Regions from separate parts of the Homo sapiens genome. Here all the other regions are linked to region 1. The links come from fine-mapping of genetic effects on gene expression. A gene starts in region 1. Each other region holds a variant in brackets. All regions are shown on one strand. Distances are between the middles of the regions.

Region 1 (7,069 bases):
ACTTTACCTTGACTTCCAGCCTACAAACTGTTCCTTCAACTACTGTCTCCGCTTGCCCACTTTGTTGCTATTCTTTCCTTAGTTTCCTTTGTTTTCCAGCTTAGGGAAGTTTGGTGGGAAAATTTTTCACTTACATTTTGTTGATATTTATTTCCCATATTTGGGTCCTACCCAAATTTTAGATTTAAGAGCAAAAAAAAATTACTGTTTAAGTGAAAGAGGAAAGGCTAAGTCACTGTTCAACATGGGCTAGATCTGATCTGAATTGGAGACACAGCCTTTGCAATTGAGGAAGGAGAGGTAAGCAGTAAACTTATACAGTTTCCTCCAAGAAGTGTTATACATAGATATTTTTCAAGGAAATTGGAATAAAGCAGTTTATTAATTGAGGGGAAGCTAGTTACAGTTAGCACCTGCCGCGGACTTTTTGAGGTTGTCGTCATTAACCAAATTCTTCGGGAAAAACAATCTTTGGCACCACTTACTCCAGACAAACCCTGTTTGGAACAGACAAGTGTTCTGACCCTATAGTCGCTCCAATGTCCACCAGCCACTCACGAGTGCCCTTAGGGCTTCTCCTTGGTGGTAGCATCCCAGAAATCCTACTAGTTTCAGAAGTGCCCTAGGAAGCCTACTTCTTGGATAATGGGCTCTGTCTGCAAAGCTAGGAGATCAGCCTAGAAAAAGAAACACACCAACAAACACCAGGAAACTATGTGTAATGGTTTGCTGCTTGTGCAAAAACCTCAAAGAGGATGAAGGTCAGACAGGGATAATAGGCCAATTTAATTCTGAAAGCACAAGGTGCAAGAAATTTTAATTATGGTCTGCCACTGAAATCACACAAGATCCAATGGCATCTAACTGCAACTGCTCATCAAGGGAGACAAGAGGTGTAATTGTAACCGCTGCATAATCACTGTGAGGGCACAGGGAAGGCTGCCTTCAGCTCCCAGCAGAGAAGGTATTAAGAGCCTCGAAAAATCCAATACGGGGAAACGAGATTGCATGTAGCCAAACAGAAGCTCCTAACACAAAAGCCAACCCGTGTGTGTGTGTGCGCGCGTGTGTGTGTGTGTGTGTGTGTGTGTTGAGGGTGAGGGTTCCAGAAAGAAAATGTGAAGCTGTTTGGCCCACACTGGGGATAAGAGATTGTTTGAAAACTCTGAACCCTTTTCTGTTTTGTGGATAAATGCACACAGAGAAAAGAGCACTGTCTCCTTTAGGTATTTCTCTCCTTGATGAAGCTTCACCCACTCTCCTTTGTTTAAGACAATTGGCTTGGATGTTACCGTGATTTACAGTACCAAACTCCCTTTAATTTGTTCCCATCAAACCCAAGTCTGGAGACAAAACGCCAAGCACACGACTGGAGGTGCCCAAGCCTGTGCAGCTCTGGCAGCGACGCCGCCGGCGCCCCCGGGCGTTTTCCCCGCACCCCACATCGCGTGGGCGCCCGTAAAGGCACGCGCGGAGAAAGCCCCTCCGTGGACTCCCCACTCCGCAAAGTTTAACAAAGCCGTGAAGTAAGGAAACCGAACCTCCCGTCCGCGCCCGCTGCAAAGTTGGCATTGAAGTTTGTGCCGGGATGTCCCAAATCTTGAGGGGGCGGGGGGCGCGAGTGTGCAGAGAGGCGGGAGGATGGATGCAGATGGGGAGACAGTGAGGGGAAGGGAGTTTTTCCGAGTGGACGGTCCGTGAGGCGGTTTTCTTCACCCGGAAGCCTGTTTGACTCAGAGAGGTCCGGGAGGTGCACGCCAGGGGAGGTCTCCCGGGGCGGGCGCTGTCGCCGAGGAGGCCGGCGAGCTGTCACCTGCGGGGGGCTGTGGTGGGAGCTGAGGGCGCTCTCCTAAGCGCCAAAAGAGGACGGGGACATTCACAGTCACCGGCTCTCGGGGCTCTAAGTAGTGGGGGAAGGGATATTCACGAGTGGGCAGGAGGCCAAAAGCAACACCTTTCGGATACGCTTTTCCCCTCCGACCTCTCCAACTTCCCGCGGCGCTGGTCAAGGACTCCCTCCCACCCCACCCCATCCCACCCAACCTCCCGGCCGACAATTCGGACCTGTCCACGGCAGAGCGTGGGGTGGAGTGCGGCGGGAAAGCAGAGGGCGCGAAGGTCGGGACCCCAAATTGCAAACCCTCAGCCCCTAGCAAAGACGACCAAATGCATTTACAACCGTGCAAGTATCTCAGCCTTGTAACAGAGCTCCGGGTTTGCGCCGGGCACAGTTCCCCGACTCTTCTGTTGTTCCTAATAAAGTCGATTACGTTGCCCTCCCGGAGCTGATTGGAAGGGAACCGAGAGGAAAAGGGGGGGAACGCGGGAAAAAGCGGGGGGGGGGGGGGGCGAGCAATCAACTTTGTAACCCAGCGCTTCCTCGCGCGATCCGTCGCCATGCTTAAGATTCCCACCCCCGCCGCCCCCCTCTTGCCTTTCAAGTGGATACTGAAACTAGGCCAAAACTTTTTCCCCTCCTTTTCTCTTAGCCACTAGACTGGATTGTGCCCCACGGAGCCCCATGGAGCTCTGCTTTCTTAAGCACAATAGCCGGACTAATTAGATCATAGAAGCAAGGCAGTGATACTGTAACAAGTAGCCCAAGAGGCAAAGAGGGAAGGGGCCCGAAAAGACAGAAAGGGGGAAAAGTTTGCAGCTCTCCGCACTTACCAATCAAGCCTCCCACCAGAAAGGCGATGATTTGGAACACGAGCAGAATCCCACCAACAATGCACAGCTTCTTGGTGCTCATGTTTTCTATAATTGCCCCAGCCATTTTTGCGCCCCCCCTTTTTCTTTTCTCCTTGAAATAAATGTTTTAGGGTGAGCTTTTTGCTCCCTCCTCTCACACACTCCCTCCTTCCTCGCCTCCTTTCTGGGCGCTGCAAAACTTCAGAGGTGCTGGAGCGCGGCGAGGATGGGACCGGGACGGAAGGCGCCCGCACGGATTCCCCCGGCGCAGCCGGCTCGGGTTCCCCCAATGCCCGGAGCTGTGATTGTGGCCGCTCCGCCGCCTGTGGACGCTTAAAGGAGCAGGGAAGCGGATCACATGACGCCGCCTCCCTCCCTTTCTTCCTCCCTCCCTCTCGCGCTTCCTCCCTCCCTCCCTCCCTCTCTTCCTCTACCCCTTGCCCACCAGTTCGGGGCTCAGAGCTCTGGCGGGTGCTGGCGCCTGGCTCCCGAGTCTGGCCTGCAACCTGTCTCTCCAAGGTCTGATGCCATTTAGGGGTTGCTGTTGATGTTAAGCGGGTTCCCCCTGCCCAGCTTCTCACAGGTTTCCTTTTCTGGTTTCCGAAGTGCGAGATTTAAATCACCGGTGGACCGCCTTGCAGACCTTTAACTTACGCGTTGACTTTAGGAAATGGTCCCCACCCCACCCCCAACTGCTAGAACTCTCTTTAGGAAAGAGGAGGAGAATTTTTTTTAAAAGGACCCAATAGATGCCTAAGTCAAAACACAGAGATGCGGAATAAAGTCTCAGCTCGACTTCTTTCTACCAGATTCCCAGCCTCGGTTATTGGGCACATACCCAGCTAAATTCCCCACGGCGCCCCTTGAGGAAACTTGCTCTCCAGCCAAATCAGACCACTGTTCGTTACTCCAGCACATGTGCTTCCACAGCCTTAACCCTGGTTATTGCCTTAAAGAGAACATGTTCTACTCCATCAATGTTAAACCTGATCCAAAACCAACTAGTGTTAAAAAATCTTTCTAATTTTCCACACCACCTCCATGCAGTATCTCTGGGAACTGAGCCCCTACAATCCTGTATTTACATTTTTACCTCCTATTGTAAGGATTTGTGTACACGTTTGTCTCCACCACTGAGCTGTAAACTCCTGGGGAATAGGGACCAAGTTTTTTTTGTTCTTTGTACCCCCCATGGTGCCTAACAAAATGCTAGCTCTAGTAGGTGCCCCATAATCTTTTGTGGAATGAATAAGTGAATGTGAAAGCAAGCCCACAGTTTGTATTTCAAAGGTCTAAAGAGATCTTAGTTGGTTTAGAGGGTACCTATATTAAGTTACAATGTTTGTTGTCTCTTTGTGAGAAATCATATATTTATATTTATACTTAACTTCCATAAAAAGAGGGGCGGGGCTCCCGATAGAGATTTCCTGCTCTATCAAGCCTAAATTTCTGGGCCTGGTTTTTCCATGTTTCATAAACTGGCCGCTTGGCCAGTACAACTCACCTTACTCAATAGACCCTTGGTTTGGTAAATACCCCACCCTGCTCCCCAAACGTGCAGTTTCTACCACCACCACCCACACATCTTGTTTCTTGTCCCTCCCATCCTTACACACCCTCTTCATGCCAAGAGACTATTTTTCCCAGTCCTCTCTCCTCCTCTACTCTGTTCCTGAATTTTCATTGCCCTTATAAAAGATGTCATGCAGGTTACACTTAATAGAAGCATTCATTTCTAATCTCCAAATAGAACAGAGACTTGTCAAGGACAAGCACCAAACTTTATGCATACAAAACTCCATCTCTTCAACATCTAATAGTTCTTAACAGTTCTGAGGATATACACATCATTATGTGTCACATAAGGATGTTTCAGTCAACAACAGACCGTGTGTGTGACAGTAGTCCTATAAGGTTATAATACCATATTCTTACAACACCTTTTCTATAGATATGTTTAGATACACAGAGTGCTTACTATTGCATTACAGTTGTCTACAGTGTTCAGTACAGTAACATGCCAGACAGGTTTGTAGTCTAGGAGCAATCAGCTACACGGTGTAGCCTAGGTCTGTAGTAGGCTATGCTACCTAGGTTTATGTAAGTGCCCTCTATGACATTTGCACAATGACAAATCACCTAACAACACATTCTCAGAAGGTATTCCCATCATTAAGCAATGCATGACTGTGGTTGCTGTTTATCTATTCTCTCATTCAACTCTTTATCCAAGTCACTTATTGAGCCTTTAACATGTTCCAGGCTTTCTTTCTTAAGCACTCAAGGATACCAAGATGTCAAAGTACTTGCACCTGCCCCAGAGGAACCCCCCCCCAGTCCAAATGTTATTCACTGAATAGTAATTAATTACCTCTACTTTGGCAAACACCAGGTACTATCAGAAAGGATGAAGTAGACAGAATTGTTGTCCTTCCAATGTCCTTCAGTTCAAAGTACTCAGATACCTTGGGGTATCATGTTCTGAGCCCAGCACTCCTAAGGGCCCATTTATCTTTCCTAAAAGTCATTTGTTTTCTCATAAATACACTTCTTCTCCTATTAAGATAGAATATAAGCTCCAAATTCTATTAACAACTGCCTCCTTGAGTGGTTATGAATGCCCACATACATTTGATATATGTGAACAAAAATTTGTCTTTTGCCTTGCTAATCTGTCTTTTGTCAGTTTAGTCCACAGACCCCCAAGCACTATGCATAAGAGGGTAGAGAAAAAATGGTGGGTTTTTTGTTTATTTATTTGTTTGTTTGTTTTTGAGACAGAGTCTCATTCTGTCGCCCAGTCTGCAGTGCAGTGACACGATCTTGGCTCACTGCAACCTCTGCCTCCTGAGCTCAAGCAATTCTCCTGCCTCAGCCTCCTGTGTAGCTGGGATTACAGGTGCCCACCACCACATCTAGCTAATTTTTGTATTTTTAGTAGAAATGGGGTTTCGCCATGTTGGCTAGGCTGGTCTTGAACTCCTGACCTCAGGTGATCCACCCACCTCTGCTCCCAAAGTGCTGGGATTACAGGTGTGAGCTACCACGCCTGGCCCCCGTCCACTTCAAATATAAACTGGATCCATAAAAAATGTCTGGAGTGGTAGAAGTGATTTATTCAGATTAGTGAACTCCTTGACTTAGTTTTTAATGAGCTGCTACAATACACCCCACCCCCTCTGCTCTGAAATGCATCTCTGCAGAGTAACTAGCCTAACTCCTTAGGTTTCAGTTTTCTCATCTGTAAATGAGTTGCTGGTTCTCCACCAAGATGATCCCCTGCTTTAAAAGAGCACTTATTAAATAGTTATTTTAATTAAAAAGGGATATTTCTAATTGCTAATCAGTACTTCTGTCATGAGATTACCAATAATGCCCAACTTGGTGGGATGTAGACACCTGTAGTATTCATCACCATGGGCTGCTTTAAAAAAATTGAATTTCTATCACATCTTTTTAAACATTAAAAGTGACTGTGAATCTTTATTTCCCAAGCGGACAACACAGGTGAATAGAAAAGAACATGACAGTTAGAGTCAGCTGGATCTGGTTTGGAACCCAGATCCCATCTGCCCCTTGTTTCATGTGATTATAGGCCATTATGCAGTTACTTACCACCTCTGAGGCTTCACAGACCAACTCTGAGGCTTCTGTAAAACCTTCACTCTTTACAGAAGAGTTTTCCCTTCCGTAAAATGGGAATAATAGTACTATTTCATGGTATTCTTGTAAGATATGAATATTTATTATTATATTTAGGAAACTAAGGGAAATCAATAATTTTGTGTTTAAAAACTAGTAAAACTAGTAAAACTGATGACTGATTATTGCTCAGCTCTAAAATTTTTATCATATTGTGATTACTGTTTGAAGCATATGTTAGGAGAAGTCTAGGTGGTTAACTTTACTTGACAAGTGTGTTAATAAGGACAACATCTAGAATTGAACTTTGACAATACTCAGTGGTTTTTAACATAGAAACATCTGTTCTAAAAACTTCCAGCTGCCAAGGAAATGTTTGTTTTGAGTCATTGTCATTAGGTAGATTATCCCAGAGACTGAAATGATCCAAGGGCAAATCCAACTCTGTCAATAAAAACTGATCATTTCAACTCCATTCCACTAGACTTTATATTAGGTATTCTGATTTATTCATCATTTTATTCAAAGTGTTTGGGATATGCCGGGCATGGTGGCTCACGCCTGTAATCCCAGCACTTTGGGAGGCTGAGGTGGGCGGATTACCTGAGGTCAGGAGTTCGAGACCAGCCTGACCAACATGGAGAAACCCTGTCTCTACTAAAAATACAAATTAGCCGGGCGTGGTGAGGCATGCCTGTAATCGGGAGGCTGAGGCGGGAGAATCACTTGAACCTGG
Region 2 (7,069 bases), 21 kb after region 1:
TTCAATATGTATTCTGTGATGACTATGCTGTTGCCTTTTGTTCATTGAGATATCCTCTTTTGTAAAATGTCTGTCCAAGTCTTTTTTCTATTTTTTAAATTGATCACCATTTTTGTCTTTACTTATTTGTAGAAGTTCTTTATATATTCTGGACGCAGATACTTTTTCAAGATTTGTATTGAAAATATCATCTCTTGGTCTGTGATCTGTCTTTTCCGTTTTTGTTTTTTTTTTTAATGGTGTTTTTCAGGAACAGGCATCAAGATTGCAAGTTTATTGAGCTTACAATCAATAAACATGTGATTTCTTCCATTTGATTTAAAAGGGTCTTTTAGAAATTTTTCTTGGCCATATTTTATCTTTTCTTTTTTGAGACAAGGTCTCACTCTGTCACCCAGGCTGGAGTGAAGTGGCACAATCATAGCTCTCTGCAGTCACAATCTCCTGGGCTCAGGTGATTACCTTGCCTAAGCCTACCCTGTAGCTAGGAATTCAGGTATGAGCCACCACTCCCAGCTAACTTAAAAAATATATATATATTATTTTTTTTGAGGTGGGGTCTGGCTGTGTTGCCCAGGCTGGTCTCGAAATTCTGACCTCAAGTGATACTCCTGCCTCAGCCTCCCAAAGTGCTGGAATTACAGTCATGAGATGCTGCACCCAGCCTATATTTTATTATTTTTAAGGAAGAGATATTGTACTACTTTTATTACTTTTATACCCAAACACAGAAAATTCCAGTGCTATTATAAAAAGTATTAAATTTTTTTTATTTTCTAGTTGTGTAGTACATATAAATAAAATTGATTTTCTATATCAACCTTCTATCCACTGACCTTACAAAATAAATGTATTCTTATAATTTGTTTGTAGATTTTTTCAATTTTTTTACATAAACAATCATGTCATATATGAACAATAATAATTTTACTTCTGTTTCCAAACTTTATAGCTTTCATTTTGTTTGCTTGCTTTATTGTATTGGTGAATTTCTCTAGTACAATCTAGAATTGAAATCACCATTATTATTTGATATTTATTTTGGAGATGCTAGCCATTGCAACTGAAGAAGAGAATAAAAAGAGAAACAAGAAGGAAACAAACTTAGAATTATGTGTGATTGATACAATTATAAATCTAAAAATTCAAATAAAAATAATTCAAGCAATAATAAAGCTAATCACAATAATTAAAAGTCAATTACTTGGCTGGATGTGGTGCCTCATGCCTGTAATCCCAGCACTTTGGGAGACTGAGGCAGGTGGATCATGTGAGGTCAGGAGTTTGAGACCAGCCAGGCCAACATGGTGAAACCCCACCTCTACTAAAACTACAAAAAATTAGCCGGGCGTGGTGGTGCGCACCTGTAGTCCTGGTTACTTGGGGGACTGAGACAGGAGAATTGCTTGAACCTGGGAGGTGGAGGTTGCAGTGAGCCAAGATTGCGCCACTGCACTCCAGCCTGGGCGACTGAGTGAGACTCCATCTCAAAAAAAAAAAAAAAAAAAAAGTCCAGTACTTTACTTTAGAATAATGATTATCTGCTAGAAAGTAGAATGGAGAAGAATATCTCATTCACAATAACTATTCTAGGAATGAATCTAATAAGAAAGCATGAAAATTTAAAATTTCACTGAGTCAAAATTTTTAAAAATGAGTTAAATGAAAAGACATCTTTTGTTTGGATAGATGAATCTATCTATCTATCTATCTATCTATCTATCTATCTATCTATCATCTATCTATCTATCTATCTATCTATCTATCTATATCTATCATCTATCTATCTATATCTGTCTATCTACCTACCTACCTATCTATTTTTTAGTGGGATTAAGTGGTTTATTCAAAGTTATCTGATTAGTAACATTTTTCTAAAGTTTATGTTCCTATGTTACTTCTCTGCATACAATTTTTTTTTTTACTTTAAGTTCTGGGGTACACGTGCAAAATGTGCAGTTTTGTTACATAGGTATACACGTGCTATGGTGGTTTGCTGCACCTATCAACCCGTCATCTACGTTAGGCATTTCTTCTAATGCTATCCCTCCCCTAGCCCCCCACCCCCCAACAGGCCCAGATGTCTGGATGTGTGGTGTTCCCTTCCCTTGTGTCCATGTGTTCTCCTTGTTCAACTCCCACTTATGAGTGAGAACATGCGGTGTTTGATTTTCTGTTCTTGTGATAATTTGCTGAGAATGATGGTTTCCATCTGATGAATCAATATTTTGAAAGAGTTATTTTTGAATTAATCTAAACTATAAAGCAATTCCTATCAAAAATATAAACAAAGTTTTTTGAAGATTTTTGAAATTTGAATGAAATGATGCTAAAATTTATATGACAAAATAAACACGTAGGAAAATATTTGAAAAGAGAAGAATCATGAGGTGGGTTGAGTACATCAGATAAAGTGTTGCTTTAAAGTATCTGAACTTTCTTTCTGACCACAAATAAACAAAAAAGATCAATGAGATAGATGAACAAATCCATAAATAATCTGGAGTAATTATCTGAGTTTAATAATAAAATGATAAAAGTCACATTTTTAATAAATGAGAAAAATATAAATTATTAAATAAATAATGTTGGTAATACTGATTGAACATTTGAAAAACATAAACCTGGATTTTACCCTTCCTTCTTCTCTATTAAGATGTGAATAAAAGAAATCCCAAAATAATAAGCAAGAACATGAATAATACTAATCCAAACATAAACTTGGTATAGGAAATGCCTTTCTAAACTTATTTCAAAGTCCTCAAGCCAAAAGAAAAAGATTAATATCTACATTTTAATCTTAACATTTTCAATTTCTATCAATTTTAACACTCTGCCGTGAAAAAAGGTCAAATAGAAGACAAGCACATATTGGGAAAAAATATTTGCAACAAATACGACAAGGCACCTTAATATAAAAAAAATTCTTCCAAATAAGTAAATAAAAGGTAAGGCTGAGCATGGTGGCTCAAACCTGTAATCCCAGCACTTTGAGAGGCTGAGGCTGGAGCATTCCTTGAGGCCAGGAGTTTGAAACCAGCCTGGTCAACATAGCCAGACCCTATGGCCTCTACAAAAGAAAAATTCAAAAATTAACTGGGAGTGGTGGCATGTACCTGTAGTCTGAGGTACTGGGGAGGCTGAAGCAGGAGGACCGTTTGAGCTTCGAAGTCTGAAGCTACAGTGAGCCATGATTGCACCATTGCACTCTATCTGGGTGGCAGAGTGAAACCCTGTCTCCAAAACAAAAACAGAAACAAAGATATATAACCCAATAGAAAAAAAGTGGGCAAAGGAGTTTATGGAAAAAATATGAGTGCGCAATTCACACCTGAAAAGATACTTAACCATATAATATTTTAAAATACATAAACTGAAGAACAAAGTGTATTTTTTTATCCAATTAAGAATATTAAAAGGTTATGTAAGCCCAAAGCTGAAGGGAACTATGCAGGTCTATATATTGTTGATAGAATAAATTATTACAAACCTTTTGTAGGAAATTTATCAACATCTATCCAAATTATTGCTGAGCATACTCTTTGACCCCCAAATTGAAATTTATCTTACCCATATGCCTGCAAAAGTGTTCAAAGATATGTCTACAGGAATTTCATCATTTTGCTGTAGCATTGCTTTGCTTTTTAAGATAGTGTTATGGGCTGAGCAGTCTTTTCCTAAAATTTGTATGTGAAAACCCTCACTCTCCGCACCTGAAAATGTGACTGTATGTGGAAATAAAGCTTTTAAAGAGGTTGTTAAATTAAGATGAGACTGTTAGTGTGGGTCCTTATCCAATCCAACTGGTGTCCTTGTAAAGAAGAGGAGATTAAGACACTGGAGGCACACCAAGGATGTGAGCAAACAGAGAAAATCAATGTGAGGGCTTAGAAATAAGGCAGCCAACTGCAAGCCAAGGAGAGAGGTCTCAGAAGAAACTCAACCTGCTGACATCTTGACCTTGGACTATTAGCCTCCAGAACTGTGAGAAAATAAATTTCTGCTGTTTAAGCCACCCAGACTGAGGTATTTTGTTATGGCAGCCTGAGCAAATTAATATAAACACTGAAAGTGAAATATTCTCAATGGCTATAAATGGAAGAAAATGTTACCAGAGGTTACGTCCGTGGTTACAGAGAAGGAAAAGATAGAAGGTAGGGAAATTTGATGTTTTAATTTATGCTTTCTTATTTTGTTTATTTTAAAATTTTGAACCTTATTGCTGCTGTAATAAAATAAACCAGCTAATTTTAAAAAGTGATAGAGAATTTGCGTCAACTTATAAAGTCCCAGAAATATGCCCAGAAATCTCCTTTGAGACCTACAAAGCTTCTATTGATTTATTTATCTTTGATTTGTCATTTTTTATGATGTAGGTTTAAAAATAAATTATTTATTTAAACTCTTTTGTTTGGTTCAGTTGCTGGTGATTCAGCAATTTTCTATTGTTCTTCTTTCATAATCTTTGGGTTTATTTCAT[C/T]TTCCTTCCAAAACTTAAGAAACCATGATTTCGTCACTCAAGGATCACATTGGGACATCGGAAAAGTCCTCCAGGTGAAGTTGAGTTATTTATTTCTGAAGAAGACATCAACCAACCTACTGTAATATGAAACAAGTAATAACCATTCGGTTGTAATAGCTCTCTATTTTAATTACACTTTAGGCCAGAAGAGTTAGGGAAAAATATATAGTAGACAGCACTGTTATTGGGCAATGTTCCACTTTAAACACAAATCCACAGCCGTACTTCAAATCTTCTTAGATACATGATTCTCAGATAGTTAAGGGAATAGAAAAATAGTGGAGTCACTAATTACTTGGCCTTAGATGTTAGTATAACTCTAATGCCAACTCTTCCCCCCTTTATTTTAGGAGACTATTGTTGAAGTCAAAGTAACTATCTCATTTTGTTTAAAAATGTGAAAGTGTGAGTTATGTAATAAAGAGACAATGGGAAGTTTGATTAACACAGCTGCAAACTGTTAAGATATTCTTTAAGAAGAGAACACTTATGGAGTAGGAGTGGATGAGATGCAAGAACTGAATGACAGAAAATGTCCTTAAGCCTTGGCATCCTCACACCTTTTCATGCTTGGCTTGCATTGGGTCTACAGGCTTCACTGATGTTATAATCCAATTGAATAAGCATTTCTCTTATGGGTTTCCTATGGATCCGGAGCTTCTGTTAGGTTCTGTGAGGGTAACAAAAGAAGTGTATGACATATATGCCTTGAAGGACATTAGGAGACATGTAGCAACAGTAGCTTTTGGCGGCCTTAAGCAGAGGGAACGCCATCCTTACTGAAGCCCTTGGTCTCAGGAGTAGGAATTACAGAGTAAAAGGACAAGAGAGGAAGGATCACAAGGGCTTGATGGAGATTTTCATCTCAAATATAAAATCCAAAAGGTTCTGAAAACCAAACTATCTTGGGGTTATTTATAATTTGTATTTATCCCACTGAATGCAGAGATATTCATATGTTTTACTGAAGAAATGTTAGTATATTAATTTGAGTATTTTATAGCAACACTTCACCTACCTTCTCCCTCATGGGAAGAAATATATTTCCCTAACGTTGTAAGGGAGGAAACCACCTCTCATATTGTCTTATGCCCAATTTCTGCCTCCAAAGAAAGAAAAAGTAAAAACTAAAGGCAGAAATGAAATCTGCAAGCAGACAGCCTGGTGCCACACCCTGGGCCTGGTAGTTATAAATTGACCCCTGACCTAATTGGTTACGTTATCTATAGATTACAGACATTGTACAGAAAAGCACTGTGAAAATCCCTATCCTGTTTTGTTCCAATCTAATTACCGGTGCATGCAGCCCCCAGTCACATACCCCCTGCTTGCTCAATCAATCATGACCCTCTCACGCACACCCCCTTAGAGTTGTGAGCCCTTAAAAGGGACAGGAATTGCTCGCTTGGGGAGCTCAGCTCTTGAGACAGGAGTCTTGCTGATGCCCCTGGCCGAATAAACCCCTTCTTTCTTTAACTCGGTGTCTGAGGAGTTTTGCCTGCGGCTGGTCCTGCTACAGCTGGACTTAGTCATATGACTGGCTTTGGCCAATGGAATGTGAGGGGAGCTGATGAGAGCAGAGGCATTAAATGTGCTGATGAGATTTGAGTTTTTTGGGTCTTTGGCCTTCCCATTATTCACCATGAGAAGGCCTGCCCCAGGGAATCAGTGATCCTGAAAGAATGAGAAGAAATACAGAACAGCATCCCCACAGAGCTATGAAATAAGAAAAACATGGTTGCTTTTGTAAGCCATCGAGTTTTGGAGTGTTTTGTTATGATGAATTATTGAGGTAATAGCTAGCTGATACAATGCTTTAGATTTTAAAATGCTACCTCAGACTCTGCTGGGGATGTTACATAATATACAGTATGTACACCACATCTCCTTTGTAAACATGCTGTCTAAAATTTTTGGTACTTTTTATTGAGGTATCGTAGTTATACATATCTTGGGGTACATGTGATATTTTGATACACATATGTAATGTGTAATTATCAATCAGGGCAAACGGGGTGTCCACCACCTCAAATATTTATCTTCTCTTTTTATTTGAAACATTACAATTCTTCCCATCTACCTATTTTGAAATATACAATACTGATTATTAACTATAATTTCCCTACTGTATATCAAATACCATAACCTATTCCTTCTACCTAACAGTATTTTGGTGCTTATTAACCAACTTCTCTTCATCTCCACTGGTTTCCTTACAGGCCCTTGGTCAGCACCATTCTACTCTCAACCTCCTTGAAATCCATTATTTTAGCTCCTGTATATGAGTGAGAATATGTGATATTTGTGTGTATGTGCCTGGCTTATTTCATTTAACATGATGACCTCCAGCCATGTTGTTGCAAATAGGACTCTTCTTTTTTATGGCTAATATTCCATTGTGTATATGTAACATTTTCTATATCCACTCATTCAATAATGGACACTTAGGTTGATTCCATATCTTGGCTATTGTGAATAGTGCTGAAATACACATGGGAATGCAGATATCTGTGCAATATACTGGTTTCCTTTCTTTTGGATATATAC
Region 3 (7,069 bases), 37 kb after region 1:
ATAGGGTATAATGGAACAACAAAATGGAAGGAATCTAGGTCTATTAATTATTTTGTTGAGCAGAGCTATCTACTAGCCTGGTCTGCCCACCTATAGACTGTTATGGGAAAGCACAGTGAAATTCTATCTTACTAAATCATTGAATTTTGGGGTCTCTTTTTGATCTCTATTCTAATTTATATAGTTTTTATTCCTTGTAATAAGAAACCTACTTTTTAAAGCTCTGCTAGAGTCTTGTGGAGAAAGAGATGAGAAAGAATGTTATTTCCTTTTGGACTATTCTGGAGTAGTCCCTCCACCCTTTAGAGAAGTACCTAAATTTAACTCAGGCTATGTTGATTTATCTAGGACTGGGTGAGTGGGGAGTGCTCTTACCCCATCCTCCTGAGCATTACTCTCCATATTCCAACCATCATTTTTGGTCTCCTTGAGGATGCTGACTTAAGAAACTCAGTATAAATATTAAATGAACTGAATACAAAATGTCTCCGGAGATGGTTTCATCATTTTTTTTTTCCAGAAGACCCAAATTTGAGCTGGCAGCATTAATCAAATAGACCACATTTATTATAAAGTACATTAGAGCATGCACGCTCTCCTTTTAATGTATAGACTCTCACCCACTATTTAACAACCATTTTCTCCTTACTTCTTCCTTTCCATTCCTAGTTTGGTAAATGTGTCCTCTGGACTTGCAATTCCCATACTTCAAACCAACAAACATTTACTAAATGCCTCTTAAGGCATTGTGCTAGGCATTAGGTTAGACGCTAGATATACAGTAGTGATTAAGAAAAAACAGATCTGAGGCCAGTCATGGTGGTTCACTCCTGTAATCCCAGCACTTTGGGAGGCTGAGGCAGGCGGATCACCTGAGGTCAGGAGTTCGAGACCAGCCTGGCCAACATAGTGAAACCCATCTCTACTAAAAATACAAAAATTAGCTGGGTGTGGTGACGCATGCCTGTAATCCCAGCTACTTGGGGGGCTGAAGCACAGGAATTGCTTGAACCCGGGAGGTGGAGGTTGCAGTGAACCGAGACTGCACCACTGCACTCCAGCCTGGGCATGATCTTGGCTCACTGCAACACTGCAACCAAAAAAAAAAAAAAAAAACGAGAAAAAACAGATCTGGCCTCTGGCCTCACGCATAGCTTACAGTCTAACTGGGCAGAAGATCAATGAACAAGTAATTACACAGCTGAAGAATTTTAAGAAATGAAAAGTACTTAAAAATTTTGTAGTAACATTTATTGACTGAATAAATGGAGAAAAATAAATTGAGAATTAAGCAGCTTTCCTCCAAGCCTCCAGGGCAACAAGGAACACTCCCTTATTTTCCCTTTCCTGCCTTCCTTCCTCATTGCTTTGGGTTCACATTGGTTCTTGTGCCTGTGAAAGAGGAGTTAGATAATTAATCAGCTAAAAATAAGGATTCACAGTTAATGCACTTGGAAAGGGATCGAAAAGGAACTTGGCAAGATAAAAATACAGTCTTGCACTGCATAATGTCATTTTGGTCAATGACAGACTGCCTATAGGATGGTGGTTCCATAAAATTAAAATGGAGCTAAAAAATTCCTATTCGCCTAGTGACATTGTAGGCATCATAACATTGGAGCAAAACACATTACTCACACGTGTGTGGTGATGCTGGTTGCAAACAAACCTATTGTGCTGCCAGTTGTAGAGCACATATGATTATGTGCAGCACATACAATGATGTGCGGTATATAATACTTTGATAATAATAATAAACTTACTGGTTTACGTATTTACTGTACTATATTTTTATCATTATATTAGAGTGTACTCCTTCTATTTATAAAAATAAAAAGTTAACTGAAAGATGGTCTTAGGCAGGCCTTTAGGAGGTACTCCAAAAGAAGGCACTATTATCACAGATGAGAGCTCCAGGTGTATTATTGACCCTGAAGACCTTTTAGTGGGACAGGATGCAGTGGTGGAAGATAGTGATATTGATGATCCTGCCCCTATGTAGGCCTAGGTAATGTGTGTTTTTGTGCTTAGTTTTTAACTAAAATGTAAAAAAGTTAAAAAAAAATGATAAAAGTAGAAAAAAAGCTTACAGAATAAAGATAAAAAAATAAAATATTTGTGAACAGCTGCAAAATGTATGTTTTAAGATATGTTATTACAGAAGAGTCACAATGTTAAAAAAATTGAATTTATAAAGTAGATAAGTTACAGTGAGCCAAGGTTAATTTATTATTAATGAAAGAAAAATATTTTAAAACAAATTTAGTGTAGTCTAAGTGTAGCGTTTGTAAAGTATACAATAGTGTACAGAAATGTCCTAGACTTTCACATTTATTCACTACTCACTCACCAACTTACCCACGGCAACTTCCAGTCCTGCAAGTTTCATTCATAATAAATGCCTTATATAGGTGTGTTATATGATATTTTATTTTTACTGTATTTTCCTATTTTACAGTTTTCCTATGTTTAGATACACAAACATTTACCATTGTGTTACAATTGCCTGCAGTATTCAATATACTAACATGCTGTACAGGTTCATAACCTAGGAGCAATAGACTATACCTTATACCTGAGGTGTTAGCAGGCTATACCATCTAGTTCTGTGTAAGTTCCCTCTATGATGTTTGAATAACAGCAAAATTGCCCAAGGATGCATTTCTCAGACGGTATCCCCATCATTAAGCAATACATGACTGTAGTTACATTTTGGTGAAAAGCTTGTGGCTTACTTTCTTTTCCTTGATATTAACGTATTTGTTGTACAATATATTAAAATTGGGAATACAAAAGGTGTGTTTGTGTGTGTGTTAATCTTTTTAATCACTTTCTATGGGAAGCGAGATTGCATTTCATGTGCACGTGCCAATCTCTCACTGTTGCTCACTGGGAATGACTAATATCATTTTTCTTCCTTCTGGCCTAATGCAAACAAGCCACTGTGACATCCAATTTCTGATTTTTGGTCAATAGAAGGCTCAGATTTCTATTTTTGTATTGCCAAACAATTTGCAGCTTTAAATATTATTTTTGTTTAGTATTCACACATGATAATTTTTTTGGAGGTATCAGTCAAAGGCCAAAGCCTTTTCCACACAATACCACTGACCTTCCTTCAAAATCCATGGATGCAAAAGGACAGATAGTGGAGTGATAATTGGTGAAATAAAGAGGGAGTTGCTCCAGACAGGAGACGAAAGTTGCTGCTATTGAGACCAAGAAATGAAACCAAACTGTTTATCTATTACTGTATAAAAAGCTAACCCAAAAGGTAGTGGTTTAAAACAGCCATATTTTTGCCCATAATTCTCCAATTTGGGCAGAGCATGGTGGTGGCAGCTTATCCCTGCTGTGTGGTGCTGGACAGGGTGACTCACCTGGGCTGGAGAGTCTATGGTGACTTCACTCACACGTCTGGGGCTCCAATGGGGGTGGCTGGAATGTGAGGTATGGCTGGGCTTGTTTCTCTTTATACAGCCTCTCTGTGCATCATGGTCAATGAACTCTTTATCAAACAGCATCCTATTAAATCATTTGATTCTCACATTAATCTCTAAGGTTGTATCTTAAGAACTGAAAAAGAAACGGAGCCCTTTTACTTAGTCTTGTTTTCCCACTCAACCTGTATTTTTCTTGGAACTTATATGTATTTACATATTTCTGTATGCAATTTATTTACTTTAGTTTATTGTAGGTATTCTTATAAACTGTCCTAATTCTGCAGTACAGATACAAAGATAAATATGTGGTTTGTTACATAAATATGTTACTATTTATCTATCTTAAATCAGGCTCAGGGAGGTTTAGTGACTTGATCAAGGTTACATGCCTAACGCATGACAGAGCCTAACTTGGTACTCAGCTTTTCTGAACCTGTGAGAGCTAAATAATAAAATCCTAATCATATTATCTATTTTAGATTTTCTTAAACTCCTAGGTTATAGAAGGATCACATAATTATTAAACAGAGAAAAAAATTGAATATAGCAAATAATTTTTTTTTTTTTGAGACAGAGTCTTGCTCTGTCACCCAGGCTGGAGTGCAGTGGCACTATCTCGGCTCACTGCAACCTCCACCTCCCAGGTTCAAGCATTTCTCCTGCCTCAGCCTCCTGAGTAGCTGGGATTACAGGCACCTGTCACCACACTCGGCTAATTTTTTGTACTTTTAGTAGAGATGGAGTTTCACTATGTTAGCCAGGCTGGTCTTGAACTCCTGACCTCATGATCTGCCTGACTCAG[C/G]CTCCCAAAGTGTTGGGTTTACAGGCGTGAGCCACCACACCCGGCAGCAAATAGTTACATACCTTTTTAATTAGGTATAGTCACCATGTTGTACAATAGAGCTGTTGAACTTATTTTAACTAATTTGAACTTACCTAACTGAAATTTTGCGTCTTTTGATCAACATTTTCCTAAGCCCCCTACACTCTCTAGCCCCTGGTAACCACCATTCTACTCTCTACTTCTCTGAGTCCAACTTCTTTAGATTCCACATGTGAGATCATGTGGTATGTATCTTTCTGTGCCTGGCTTATTTCACTTAACATAATGTCTTTCAGGCTCATTCATGTTGTCACAAATGACACAATTTCCTTCCTTTTAAAGACCAAATAGTATTCCATTGTGTACATATACCACATTTTCTTTATTCATTCATTCATTGCTGGACACTTGGGTTGATTCCATATCTTGGCTGTTGTGAATAGTGCTTCAATGAATGTGGAAGTGCAGCTGTCTCTTCTATTGCACATACTGATTTCATTTCCTTCAGATATATACCCAGTAGTGAGATTGCTGAATCATATCATGGGTTCTATTTTCAATTTTTTGAGGAACCTCCATATTTTTTTTTCATAATGGATGTTCTAATTTACATTTCCACAAACAGTGTATAAGGGTTGCCTTTTTTCCACATCCTTGCCAACATGTTATCTTTCATCTTTGCAATAATAGCCATTCTGATAGCTGCGAGGTGATATCTCTCACTATGGTCTTAATTTGCATTTCTCTGTTGATTAGTGATCCTGAACATCTTTTTCATATACCTGTTGGCCACTTATGTGTCTTATTTTGAGAAATACCTATTCAAACCATCTACCCATTTTTGTATTAGATTGTTTTCTTACTATTGAGTTGTTTGAGTTTCTTATATATTTTGAATATTAACCTCTCATCAGATGTATAACAGATAATTTTACAAAGTAATATCTTATTTAAACTTCAGTTTACTTGAATTCCATTCAGTAAATACTTATTCAGCGATTACTCCATGCCAGGTGCTGATCTGTGTGCTTAGAACACATCTCTGAACAAAACAGATATTCCTGCCCTTGCAGAACTTACTTCCTAAAAGTGACATTTAGTAAACAAAACAACCAAATCATTTTACTGTGGGAAGAAGAATTTGCTAATGTTGTTGTGCAGAGATTGAGCAGGAACTTATAGTGATGATTTCATGGTATTATGAAATGATTTCATGGTTTTTTTGTTTGTTTGTTTGTTTGTTTGTTTTTTGAGACGGAGTCTCGCTCTGTCTCCCAGGCTGGAGTGCAGTGGTGCGATCTCGGCTCACTGCAAGATCGGACTCCCGGGTTCACGCCATTCTCCTGCCTCAGCCTCCCGAGTAGCTGGGACTACAGGCGCCCGCCACCACGCCCGGCTAGTTTTTTGTATTTTTTTAGTAGAGATGGGGTTTCACCATATTGGCCAGGCTGGTCTCGAACTCCTGACCTTGTGATCCGCTCGCCTCAGCCTCCCAAAGAGCTGGGATTAGAGGCGTGAGCCACTGCGCCCTGCCGGTATTAGTTTTTAAAAATATTTTTGTTAAAGAAAAATTCAACTCTGCCAATCTCTACTTAATTGAGAAATCTGTGTGAGCTTTACCCTTGGCTATGTCTCTTTAAACCCTTGAACTTCTCTGTCAATGATTTTTATGCAGATTCACAATTAAAATTCTAAAGTGTTCTTCATGTCCCCACCACTACTCCTCTCCTCTTAGGCTGACCCTGAAAAGACAGACTTCCAATGCTTCATGCATGGCCCTTAATTTTATTCTTACTCTTCACAGTTGAACACAAATATCAGCTTAAGTCCAATAATAATCTATTTGAGATGTAGATCTGCCATTTAGGGGATATCTTTTATTATGTCACAATCACTTTTTTGTTATGGCTTTTCACATATTAGAAGGGCAAATGCGATTAGCTATTCAAATAATAGAACAAGCAAAAATTGCTGCATAAAGATAATGATGCCATCCGAATTGAACCTAGGAATCCTGGCCGAAGGCACCACTAGTTGAGAGTTCAAATTCATGCTCATTGGGTGATGTGTGGAAGCTGATATTAATTTAGTACTTTGAGTGTCAATGTGCAATGTATAAGATTTCACACATTAAAAAAATACAAATTTGAAGCAGGGCACAGTGGCTCACGCCTGTAATCCTAGCACTTTGGGAGGCCGAGGCAGGCGAATCACGAGGTCAGGAGTTCTAGACCAGCCTGACCAACATGGTGAAACCCCGTCTCTACTAAAATTACAAAACTTAGTTGGATGTGGTGGTGGGTGCCTGCAATCCCAGCTACTCAGGAGGCTGAGGCAGGAGAATCATTTGAACTCAGGAGGCAGAGGTTGCAGTGAATCGATATTGTGCCACTGCACTCCAGCCTGGGCAATAGAGCGAGACTCCATCTCAAAAAAAAAAAAAAAAAAAAAAGATAAAAATTTCGAAATTTGAGAACCATCTTTATGAGAACAGCTCCTGATCCTGAAGTTCTTACAATTCAGCTCTGAAGGCCAGATAGATATTTTAAAATGTCAGGAAACAATAAGGCCACAAGGGGAAAAAACAAAGAAATGATACAAAATGATACAAGGACCAAACCGATGAATGGAGTAGGAAACAGGATATTTTGATGCAGATGATATAGTAGGTGCTTGATAACATTACCTCATTTAATCTTCATGACGATACAGTTTTACTAATTAGAATTTTGAATAACATGCAAGGGCCATTAAGGAAATTTCTTATGGACATATAGTTAGAAAGAAAAAAAACCAGTTTGCC

What was found.
Region 2: its variant is fine-mapped to the expression of WLS in whole blood (INTERVAL, PIP above 0.99). The same link has a PIP of 0.9 or more in T cells, blood mononuclear cells and monocytes.
Region 3: its variant is fine-mapped to the expression of WLS in whole blood (INTERVAL, PIP above 0.99).

Annotation. Positions count from the first base shown.
Region 1 is chr1:68,229,524-68,236,592 of GRCh38, forward strand. WLS (Wnt ligand secretion mediator) reads right to left here and starts at 3,000. Exons shown (of 12, transcript NM_024911.7): 1 at 2,671-3,000. The coding sequence starts at 2,776.
Region 2 is chr1:68,250,978-68,258,046 of GRCh38, forward strand. No RefSeq gene overlaps it. Among named protein-coding and RNA genes, the nearest start is that of WLS, 22 kb to the left of the region's middle. The variant C/T (reference allele first, on the strand shown) is at 4,481.
Region 3 is chr1:68,266,424-68,273,492 of GRCh38, forward strand. No RefSeq gene overlaps it. Among named protein-coding and RNA genes, the nearest start is that of WLS, 37 kb to the left of the region's middle. The variant C/G (reference allele first, on the strand shown) is at 4,246.